2 separate regions of the Homo sapiens genome follow, and region 2 is linked to region 1. The links come from fine-mapping of genetic effects on gene expression. A gene starts in region 1. The other region holds a variant in brackets. All regions are shown on one strand. Distances are from middle to middle. Region 1 holds the start of RAPGEF6 (Rap guanine nucleotide exchange factor 6). Region 2 overlaps RAPGEF6 (Rap guanine nucleotide exchange factor 6).

Evidence for each region.
Region 2: its variant is fine-mapped to the expression of RAPGEF6 in whole blood (INTERVAL, PIP above 0.99).

Annotation. Positions count from the first base shown.
Region 1 is chr5:131,632,622-131,638,007 of GRCh38, reverse strand. It overlaps RAPGEF6 (Rap guanine nucleotide exchange factor 6), which reads left to right and starts at 2,779. Exons shown (of 28, transcript NM_016340.6): 1 at 2,779-3,046. The coding sequence starts at 2,978. RefSeq lists enhancers at 2,210-2,409, 2,420-2,669, 1,678-2,877, 2,970-3,059, 3,007-3,589.
Region 2 is chr5:131,612,117-131,617,502 of GRCh38, reverse strand. All of the region lies in intron 1 of RAPGEF6 (Rap guanine nucleotide exchange factor 6), which reads left to right. Among named protein-coding and RNA genes, the nearest start is that of RAPGEF6, 20 kb to the left of the region's middle. The variant T/GTTT (reference allele first, on the strand shown) is at 3,217.

The DNA.
Region 1 (5,386 bases):
GCCTGTTAGGAAGCAGCCGCACAGCAGGAGGTAAGCAAGCATAACTGCCTGAGCTCCGCCTGTCAGATCAGCAGGGGCATTAGATTCTCTAGGAACAGGAACACTATCATGAACTGCACATGTGAGGGCTCTAGGCTGCATGCTCCTTATGAGAATCTAATAATGCCTGATGATGTGAGTTGGAACAGTTCCATACTGAAACCCTCCCCCTAACCCCTATAGAGAATTTGTCTTTCACAAAACCAGTCCCTGGTGCCATAAAACGTTGGGGACTGCTGCTATAGGGCATATATCAAAGAAAGGACTTGCTGTCATAAGGTGTGTTATGTTTCAACTTTATTACTTTTTTTTTTTTTTTTTGCCAAAAGTGACTTCCCAACTTGCACTTAACCAGCAGTTTGAGTTCCTCTTGCTCCACATCTTCACAAATACTTAAATGTGTTTCTGAATTGTTATAAGTGAAAAAAAACTGTATTAAAAAAATCTATTCAATTATTCAAAGTTGAATTTCTACTTTAGAGGAATCACTTCCCAGGCCGGGAGCGGGGGCTCACGCCTATAATCCCAGCACTTTGGGAGGCCAAATTGAGTGGATCACTTGAGGTCAGGAGTTCAAGACCAGCCTGGCCAATATGGTGAAACCCCATTTCTACTAAAAATACAAAAATTAGCCGGGCGTGGTGGCGGGCGCCTGTAATCCCAGCTACTCAGGAGGCTGAGACAGGAGAATCCCTTGAACTCCCGAGTAGTTCAAGGGACATTGCAGTGAGCCGAGGTCGCGCCATTGCTCTCCAGCCTGGGCAACAAGAGAAAAACTCCGTCTCAAAAAAAAAAAAAAAAAAAATCACTTCCTAGAGGCAAAATAATGGAAATAATAAGGAGTGCTCGGATTGTGCAGCATACTAAGTGCTTCATGTGAATTTTCTCATACTAAGTGCTTCATACTAAGTGCTTAAGTGCTTCACGTGAGTTTTCTCACGTAATCTTACTAAGTGCTTCATGTGACATACTAAGTGCTTCATGTGAATTTTCTCACTTAATCTTAAGAAAATTCTGAAACAATAGGTCCTTTACTATATTCCCATTTAACATAAGGAAAATGAAGGCAACATACTAAGTGCTTCATGTGAATTTTCTCGCGTAATCTTAAGAAAATTCTGAAGCAATAGGTCCTTTACTATATTCCCATTTAACATAAGGAAAATGAAGTTCAGAGATGTTAAATAACTTCAAGTCACTTAACTAGAAGAGGTCTAATATTAGAGACACAAATTCTAGGTCTGTTTGCCCCTAAAGTTCAAGTTCATGGTGATCATGCTTTATAGTTCTTTCTCCCTCTTTCAAAATATTGATGTGACTCTGAAAATTGATCCTTGAAGAATGGAAGGGTTAACTTTTGTTTGTGATCCTGGGCAGATCTTTGAGAGGTTATATTTGTACAAAAAATGAGGAAAACGGATCGTCTGCAACATCCTGTGATTTTTTCCACAATTACTTTATTTCTACAATGGCTATGCCACACTTCGCTGGTAAAGTTTTTGATCTATACCTGAAAAAGAGAAATGCTAATAGTATGTTGTAAACTCCCAGTTTGGGCAAGCCCCAGGACCAACAGAAAACAGTCCTTAAGTCATTGCCGGTCCCAGAAACGGTGTTGTAGCCTGAACTCTCATTGTTTTCAAATATAATTTTAACTCTTATTACGTCATTAAAATTACTGTGAAGCAGTCATTAATTGGAAAGCATGTCATAATCATAAATCACCTTGTTATTTAGTGAACTATGCTAACTGCTGTGAGAAATACCAAGGTGTACCTAGATGTAGTTACAGCCATCAAGGAGCTTAAAATTCAGTGGAAAGGTGGTGTCGCCAAAGTTAGTTACCTATGAACTTATGAGAAAGGGTAAGGAGTATCCTAGAACGATGGATTCTGGAATTGTCAGTGAGCTTATTGTTGAAACGGCCTCAGCAGCTCTCTGGCTGCTCCTAAGGGTGGTCTGTTTTTCTTACCAAGGGAGCAGTGAAACAAAACTGGCTTTATTCGGTCTGTTGGGAAGCAGACTAGAATGTAAAAAGTATTGCAAAAGTTGCCACTCGAGTCCCAACCCTAAACGCAGTTGCCTGAGGGAGGGCTGCCCCGGGCATTTAGTTACAAGAACGCAGTCTAAATCTAGTTTTTTGACTCAAAGGTAATCGTGAGCTGGCCGCGGCACCGGCTGCCTATCCTGGCCGTGAATGTTTGCTTTCTCTGCCCTGGTCTCAGGACGTCCGTTTCGAATAGATCAAGCACTTCTCTGTCGGCAGCTTTCACAAGAGATCTCGTTTTATTTAAAGAGATATGAGGTGTGCGTGGAATTCCTTCTTTGCCGAATGGCGGCTTCTACTTCCGCATATTCAAAGTCGGCAGTAGAAGTTGCAGAGGAGAGCGCAAAGCCGGACTTGGCCACACCCTGGGCTTCCGGATTTGGGCACAACAGTTCTCTCCAGTCAGAACGCCTCCCCACGGTTCTGCCCCAAAATGCTATTTTTGCTCAGGTCCTCAGCGCGTTTCCGGTGTCTCCAACGGATGGAGAAGACGGAACCACAACGCCAAGGCAGACCCCGTGACTGATTTAGGTGAGGTCTCGCGAGGTGTCTTTAAATCTCACGACGACAGCAGGAAACGACTTACTCGCACCGCCCCAATTTTAACGTCACAGTGGAGTTACTCCCTTGGGCGTTTCTTAGCGTGCGCGTGCGTGCTGCGCATGCGCACTTACTCTCCCCCGCCCCCGCGCAGACTTGTCTCCGGCCAGTCGCGCGTGGGTAGAGGCCTTAGGCGGGCGTTGCGAAGGGTTGTTTGCTAGAGTTCGGACCTTGTTACGGCGCGAAGTTCCCTCCTTGGGGCGGGGGAAAGGTACCGCACCCGCTACCTAGTGTGAATGAACTGTGGCGTGGGCTGCTAAGGGCAGGCTGCGGAGTACCCGGGCCGTGGCCATGAACTCACCCGTGGACCCTGGCGCTAGGCAGGCGTTGAGGAAGAAGCCACCCGAGCGGACTCCCGAGGTGAGGCTGGTTGACCTTTATGTGCGTCTCACAGTCCAGTAGACAGCATCCTCCTGTCTGTCCGAAATCCGCGGCGACTGCCCTCTTGCCAGAGTCTCGCACCTGCTACTGGGAATCTGTTCGCTTGAGTCTCTTCCCTGACCCAGGCCCTTGTCGCCAGCAGGGTGCCGACCGCCCTTCCTGCCTGTGATGCGGTCTTAACCCGCGTACCCGTCCTTGCCGGGGGCTTCTGAGTGTCGTTAAGAAAGCACCATTACTAAGTCGTATTTTCTGAGTTGGGTAATATGAGTTTCGCAGTTAGATGCCCATTCGTTTAAGTAGACTATGAAAAACGAGATGGAAATTGTAAGGGAAGTATCTCAGCCATGTAATTTAGAAATAGTTTTTCTTTAAAGGTCTCTGAAATATTGTACAGTTGCCTAAAAAAAAGATAAAGTTTTCAAAGTTAGTTTAAAAGTTTACATCCAGTCAAATGGTGAATTCTGTAGTAGATGATGCATGTTTAAAGAACACCACTGTAGGTACTTTTTCAGACTGTCACTGGGAAATTTTACAGTATTTTGTACTTGGATCCAAAATTTGCTGTGTCGAGTTAACAGTTATGGCATCAGCTTAAAAGATTTTTCATTCGACCTTCATGAAGGCTAGTTTTCAGGCATATAACTAAAACCTGTTAGCTTTGCTTATCCCGGTAGAATGCTAAGGTTTTGGGGAAGGTTTTCCTTGATTTGGAGGTTTCTATAACAAGTGGGACATATTTTCTAAACAAAACACTAAACAGTGTGAGTGGATTATTGGATTGTTTTGTTTAAAGTTGCAGTAAATGAAATGAAATGCTTTGGTTAATTCTTCACTTTGGAGTTTTTCAGATATGTAGTGTTTTGCATACTGAGTCTCAGTAACGTTGGGCTGACCTTTTGGGTCGTGACAATTATTCAGGTCACAACGGAAGCCATGATAGGTCAAATTATGTTATTGAAGATCCTGATGTTTGCATAGGAACAACACAAATTCTACCACTTTCCAGAGTTCTCTTTTTGAGATATACATTTATAATTCGATGAGTGTTTGTTTCCTTATGATGATTCTTGAAGTCAATGTGAGCTGATTTATGAATTTCAGTAGGCGAATTATCTTACAGCCTTTATAGCATTGGAAAGTATTATACAAGGCTTACGATGTGTATTGCAGGTTTCAATTTAATTTAATTTAATGTTATTTTATTTTTTATTTGAAACAGTCTCACTCTGTCACCCAGGCTGGAGTGCAATGGCGCGATATTGGCTCACTACAACCTTTACCTCCCGGGTTCAAGCGATTTTTCTGCCTCAGCCTCCGGAGTAGCTGGGATTACAGGCAGGCGCCACCACGCCCGGCTAATTTTTTGTATTTTTAGTAGAGACGGGGTTGCACCATATTGCCCAGGGTGGTCTCAAACTCATGACCTCAAGTGATCTGCCCGCGTTGGCCTCCCAAAGTGCTGGAATTACAGGTGTGAGCCAAGTTGCCCGGCTGCTTTTAATTTTCAACATTACTTGTGCTACTAAATTCACATTTTAATGGAAAAATCCTACTGCTCTTTAACAGCAGAATTATTTATTTTGAAATTGCCTATTTTATTTTTTTTGAGACAAAGTCTCCCTCTATAGCCCAGGCTGGAGTGCAGTGGCACGATCTCTGCTCACTGCAACCTCCGCCTCCTGGGTCCCGGTTCAAGTAGTTCTGCCTCACCCTCCCGAGTAGCTGAGATTACAGGCACACGCCACTATGCCCAGCTAATTTTTGTATTTTTAGTAGAGACGGGATTTCACCATGTTGGCCAGGCTTGTCTTGAACTCCTGACATCATGATCCGCTCGCCTCGGCCTCCCAAAGTGCTGGGATTATAGGTGTGAGCCCCGCGCCTGGCTGAAATTGCCTATTTTTGAGCCTTAGGAAATTTTCTAAACTGTTCATAAAGTTATGTTGGCCACTGTGTGCTGTGTTAAGTACTTTATTGTGCTTAATTGGAACAGAAGCATTGTTCAAGGGAATGCTAAACAGCTGCCCACAGTACACAGAATGTAGCCCTGACATCTAGCAGCATAAGAGGTTAACTGATGCATTGGTAGTGCTTTTGAATGAGTGTAGAATTTGTTTGGGGTAAAGAAGTATGAAGAAGGAAATCTGAATCCTAGTGATGATTTGTTTGTGATAAATAATTTGACAAAATTCTCCCAAGTTCATTTCTGTTTTCAGAAGGTCCTTTTACTGGACTCCCAAGGGTCTATTATGAATATATTAGCTCTATAGTTGCTTATTGGGAGTCTAGCAGCTGAAGGCACTAGTCTGTGCACTATGT
Region 2 (5,386 bases), 21 kb after region 1:
CCAGCCTGGGCAACAAGAGTGAAACTCTGTCTCAAAAAAACAATCGTTTGTGTTCAGAGATATTTTATCTTTTCTGTGGTACAGATAATAAACGTTAAGCAGATTATCCAAGTTTACACAAGTAGTAACTAACAGAGCTGAAATAGGCATAATTTAAACACGGTTGTCTCCAGAGTCCAAATTGGGTTTTTTTTTGTGTGTGTGTGTGTGGTGCTGTTTTTTTAGAGACCAAGTATCTCCACATTGCCCAGATTGGCCTCCTACTTCTGGGCTCAAGTGATCCCTCCTGCCTCAGCCTCCTGAGTAGCTGGGACTGCAGGCATCTGCCACTGCATCCAGCTGTCTTCCACATTGTTAGACTGCCTTCCAAATGATTTGTAGAAGATTCCTCAGCATAACTTTTCATTATAGAACCATAGCTGCAGAATGTATGTATGATACAGTTGAATTTGTGCTGACCTTAGGATCTATCCTGGGACATTTTTCTTTGTTAAAATTCCTGGGATAGATTTATTTTCTAGGTTAAGAAGAGAATGAATAAAATATCTTGGTTAATGAAAGTTTTGGATAATGATGTTTTATTGAAAGTTTTGTGTGCCTGGGTGCGGTGACTCACACCTATAATCCCAGCACTTTGGAAGGCCAAGGTAGGAGGATCCTTTGAGCTTAGTTCAAGACCATCCTAGGCAACATAGACCTTGTCTCTACAAAGGAAAAAAAAAAAGCTGGGGGTGGTGGCACACTCGAGAGTCTCAGGAGGGAGGATCACTTGAGCCTGGGAGGTTGAGGCTGCAGTGAGTCGTGATTGTGCCACTGTACTCCAGCCTGGGCAACATAGCGAGAGCCTGTGTCAGAGAAAAAACGTTGTATGTGATGAATTAAGTGTATCATAGGTAAGAAATTCACTTGTTTTAAACTTTAAGAACCAGAAAAATGCAAAAATTTTTTAAGCATCCCAGTTTGAGTTTTCCAAGTTTTGGTTGATTTTCTAAACACCTGTAGAAGGACAGTGAGGAGAATTGGGAAATGGAGTTTCCGAGAGCAGCACAGTTGCTTGGCATAACATTGTAAACTAAGGAAGGGGAAAAAATTCCAACCTGCTTAATTAGAAATATATGTTTAAATTAGTAATTACTTGTTTATACAGTGCTCCAAATATGAGTTTATTTTCATTTAACAACTAAATTGAAAATCCACAGAATATACCTGCAATGAATGCTGTAAGTAAGAATTGTTTAAAGGGTATACAAGAGTTGTCTTGTTATACAATGGCAGCTGTCCACCCACCTCAGCTTATCCCACCTTCGCTATAAAAACTACTGGCTGAGAGGGTGTAGCTTATCTGTTTTAGGAAGTACCAAGTCATCACCACTTCCTCACCTTCTTCTTCTTTTTTTTTCGCCCCTAGGTAGAACCCATTATTTTATTCCCTAATCCTGAGCTGGTACTTGTTTTTCTAATACCCCTGGACAATTTCTGCAGTATTTTGTTGCAGTTACAGAACTAGTGCTGAATCAGATGTTACTGATCTGGGATGTCAGGATATGCCAGGTGGATAGTTTTCCCACCCTTCTCATGACTTCCCTCTTTTTTTTTTTAATTGAGACAGGGTTTTGCTCTGTTGCCCGGGCTGGAGTACAGTGGTGTGATCTCCGCTCACTGCAGCCTCCGTGCCCGGGTTCAAGCAATTCTCATGCCTCAGCCTCCCAAGTAGCTGGGACTACAGGTGTGCGCCACCATGCCCAGCTAATTTTTTTGTATTTTTAGTAGAGACGGGGTTTTGCCATGTTGGCCAGGCTGGTCGTGAACTCCTTACCTCAAGTAATCCGCCCACTCTGCCTCCCAAAGTGCTGGGATTATAGGTGTGAGCCACTGTACCCAGCCGACTTCCCTCTTGAAAGCTACATAGAGCAGCTTTCAAGTGCATTCAGCGTAAATGATTAGCACCTCCTTGAATCTAGCATTTAAATTTTTTACTGCCGAAGACTGTCTGTAAGACTTCCAGTCTGACTCTGTCAGGGTTCTTTCTTTTTTTATTTGTGACTTTATGCCTAATAGATAATATAGTACCTCAAGCTTATCTTGCAGATAATTGACACAAAAGCCCCAAGAAACCCTTTTCCAAGCTCAGCATTACAGACTCCACAACTCCATGCTGTCCTGTGTAAACAAAATGCCATAACCCCCACATCATATGAAAAAGAATTAATCAGCTCACCACTACAACCATTCTTTATTCTGTTTTGTGAATGCTTAGCATTCTTGTGACCCTCAAACTAGGTACACAAAGAAAGGGACTAGGATTTACTAGGCATCTTAATGCTTGTTGTCTTTCGCTATTAATAGGTCAGACAATCCAGAGTGACATAGATCCCACTTATAAACAGTGGTTCTCAAACTTTAGTGTGCAGAAGAATCACCTGTAGGACCTATTAAATCACAGACTGCTGGTCCCTACAACCCAGATATTCTGATTGACTAGATCTGGGGTGAGGCCTGATAATTTACATTTCTACAAAGTTCCTAAATGATGCTGATTGTGCTGGTTCAGGATCTCACAGGGTTATTACTTACATGCAACAGAACCCAATTTTGGCCAATCGAAAGAAATAATTTACTGAAAGGATTCTGGGTAGCTACAGAATTACTTGGAATACTGGAAAACCAGACTTGGGGCTAGGCTTGGGATACTAGAAAAACAGGCTTGGGTCTGTGACCCTTATCACAGATTTGGTAGATACTACTGCTACTAGCAGTGAATAGTGAGTGCCACAGTTTGCACTGTGGACCACCTGTACTGTCCATTGCGTATGTTGTAGACCCTTGATATGGTTTGGCTCTGTGTCCCCACCCAAATCTCACGTTGAATTGTAATCCCCAGTGATGGGGGAGGGACCTGTGGGAGGTGATTGGATTATGGGAGCAGATTTGCCCCCTTGCTGTTCTCGTGATGGTGAGAGTTCATTCTCTTGAGATCTTGAGTTGTTTAAAAGCATGTAGCACTTTTGTTCTACTTTGCTGTCTCTCTCCTGCTGGCTATGTCGAGATGTGCTTGCTTCCCTTTCACCTTCCACCATGATTTTAAGTTTCCTGAGGCCTTCCCAGGCATGCATCCTGTACAGCCTGCAGGACCATGAGCCAAACCTCTTTTCTTTATAAATTACCGCGGCTCCGGTAGTCTTTTTCTTTTTCTTTCTTTCTTTTTTTTTTTTTTTT[T/GTTT]TTTTGAGACAGAGTCTTGCTCTGTCACCCAGGCTGAAATGAAGTGGCATGATCTTGGCTTGCTGCAACCTCCGCCCCTCAGGTTCAGGCGATTCTCCTGCCTCAGCCTCCCAAGTAGCTGGGATTACAGGCACCTGCCACCACGCTCAGCTAATCTTTGTATTTTTAGTAGAGATGGGGTTTCACCATGTTGACCAGGCTGATCTCCAACTCCTGACCTCAGGTGATCCACCCACCACAGTCTCCCAAAATGCTGGGATTACAGGTGTGAGCCACTGTGTCCAGCCGGGTAGTTCTTTATAGCAGTGTGAGAATGGACTAATACAACCCTGCTGCAGCCACTGGCTGCCCAAGCGGATTCTATGCAGTTCTTGCTTCTCGGTGTCACTAGCTTCTGATTTAAAGTCTGGGATGAATATGTCTAATTGGTAACACTTGAATAATTTGCCCCTGCCTTTGTTGTATGGGAGGTTGGAAAAATAAAAATTTGGTGTTTTCAGCTTTCATGGTGGGAGACAGAACTCCACTGAAACTTATAAGGTGGTCTGTTGTCAGAGAGGAGCTCATTCATGCTTGGCCACACTGTAGCTATTTTTGACCATATGTTTCAGGAGCTAACAAAATATGACCAGCTATTTTTGTAAGTAAAGTTTTATTGGAACAGTCACACCCATTCATTTACCTGTTGTCCATGGCTGTTTTCATATTATAAAAGCAGAGCTAAATAGTTGTGATAAAAAACCATCTGGGCCACAAATATTTACTATTTGGCCCTTTATTGAAAAAGTTTGTCAACCCCTGACAGGAATAATGCTGACATACATACATATATATATATATATGAAGAGAGAGAGAGAGTCACACACAGACAGACAGACACACGGAGTCTCGCTGTGTCGCCCAGGCTGGAGTGCAGTGGCGCAATCTCAGCTCACTGCAAGCCCTGCCTCCTGGGTTCACACTATTCTCCTGCCTCAGCCTCCCAAGAAGCTGGGACTGTAGGCGCCCGCCACCATGCCCGGCTAATTCTTTGTATGTTTAGTAGAGACGGGGTTTCACCGTGTTAGACAGGATGGTCTTGATCTCCTGACCTCATGATCTGCCTGCCTGGGCCTCCCAAAGTGCTGGGATTATAGGCGTGAGCCACCACACCTGGCCATAATGCTGATATTTTAGTTCAGGGTCATGCAGTCAACATTACAGATGTTGTGAAGGACTACATGTTCATTTGTCCAAATTGTCCCTTTAAAATAAGGAGATTACAAACAAATATTTGAAGCTCTTTGAGGAGGGGCTTTTCAGATTTAAAGTGATAAACCTTATTAGTCTCTCTTTAGGCAGAGAACTGAAGATACATGTATATCTCAAACTTGTGAGTGAAATTCTCTTTCAGACTTTAACATTGAAAAGTTAATTTCTAATTCTTTCTCATATATTCATGGCATTGTTAATGATGTGCCGAAGATGTCCTGTAACTTGAGAAAGGAGAAAATTATATGATATAAGTTTAGTTGAGAGTCTTAGAAAATTCTGGTTCCCTGTAACACTAGCCTACCCACATGGAGTAAGTCAAGTTATGGGAGTTCTGTTTGCCATAACCTAACTTTTGTGTATTACAATTTTCAGAACTTGTTTGCCACCAGAACAAGTTGTCTTGTCAAAAATTACAAGCACATTTCCACAGGATAGACATTTTGTGAGTGCCTGCCTGCCTACACCTAACTCAGTGGTTGGGGCCCAGGCAGCCGTGTTTGTAGTACAGACATTCCTTGACTTACAATGGGGTTATATCATAATACAACCATGGTAAGTTGAAAATCTTGTAAGTCAGAAATGCATTTAATATACCTTACCTACCAAAAATCATAGCTTAGCCTACCTTAAACATGCTCAGAACACTTACATTAGCCTACAGTTGGGCAAAATCATCTAACGCAAAGCCTATTTTATAATAAAGTGTTGTGTATCTGGTATGATTTATTGAATACTGTACAGAAAACGGTGAAAAACAGAATGATTGAATGGATATTCAAATTATCGTTTCCCAGGCTGTCATCACCAAAAAAAAAAAAAAAAAAAAAAAAATTAGCTGAGCATGGTGGTGCACGCCTGTAGTCCCAGCCACTTGGAAGGCCAACGTGGGAGGATTGCTTCAGTCCTGGAGATCGAG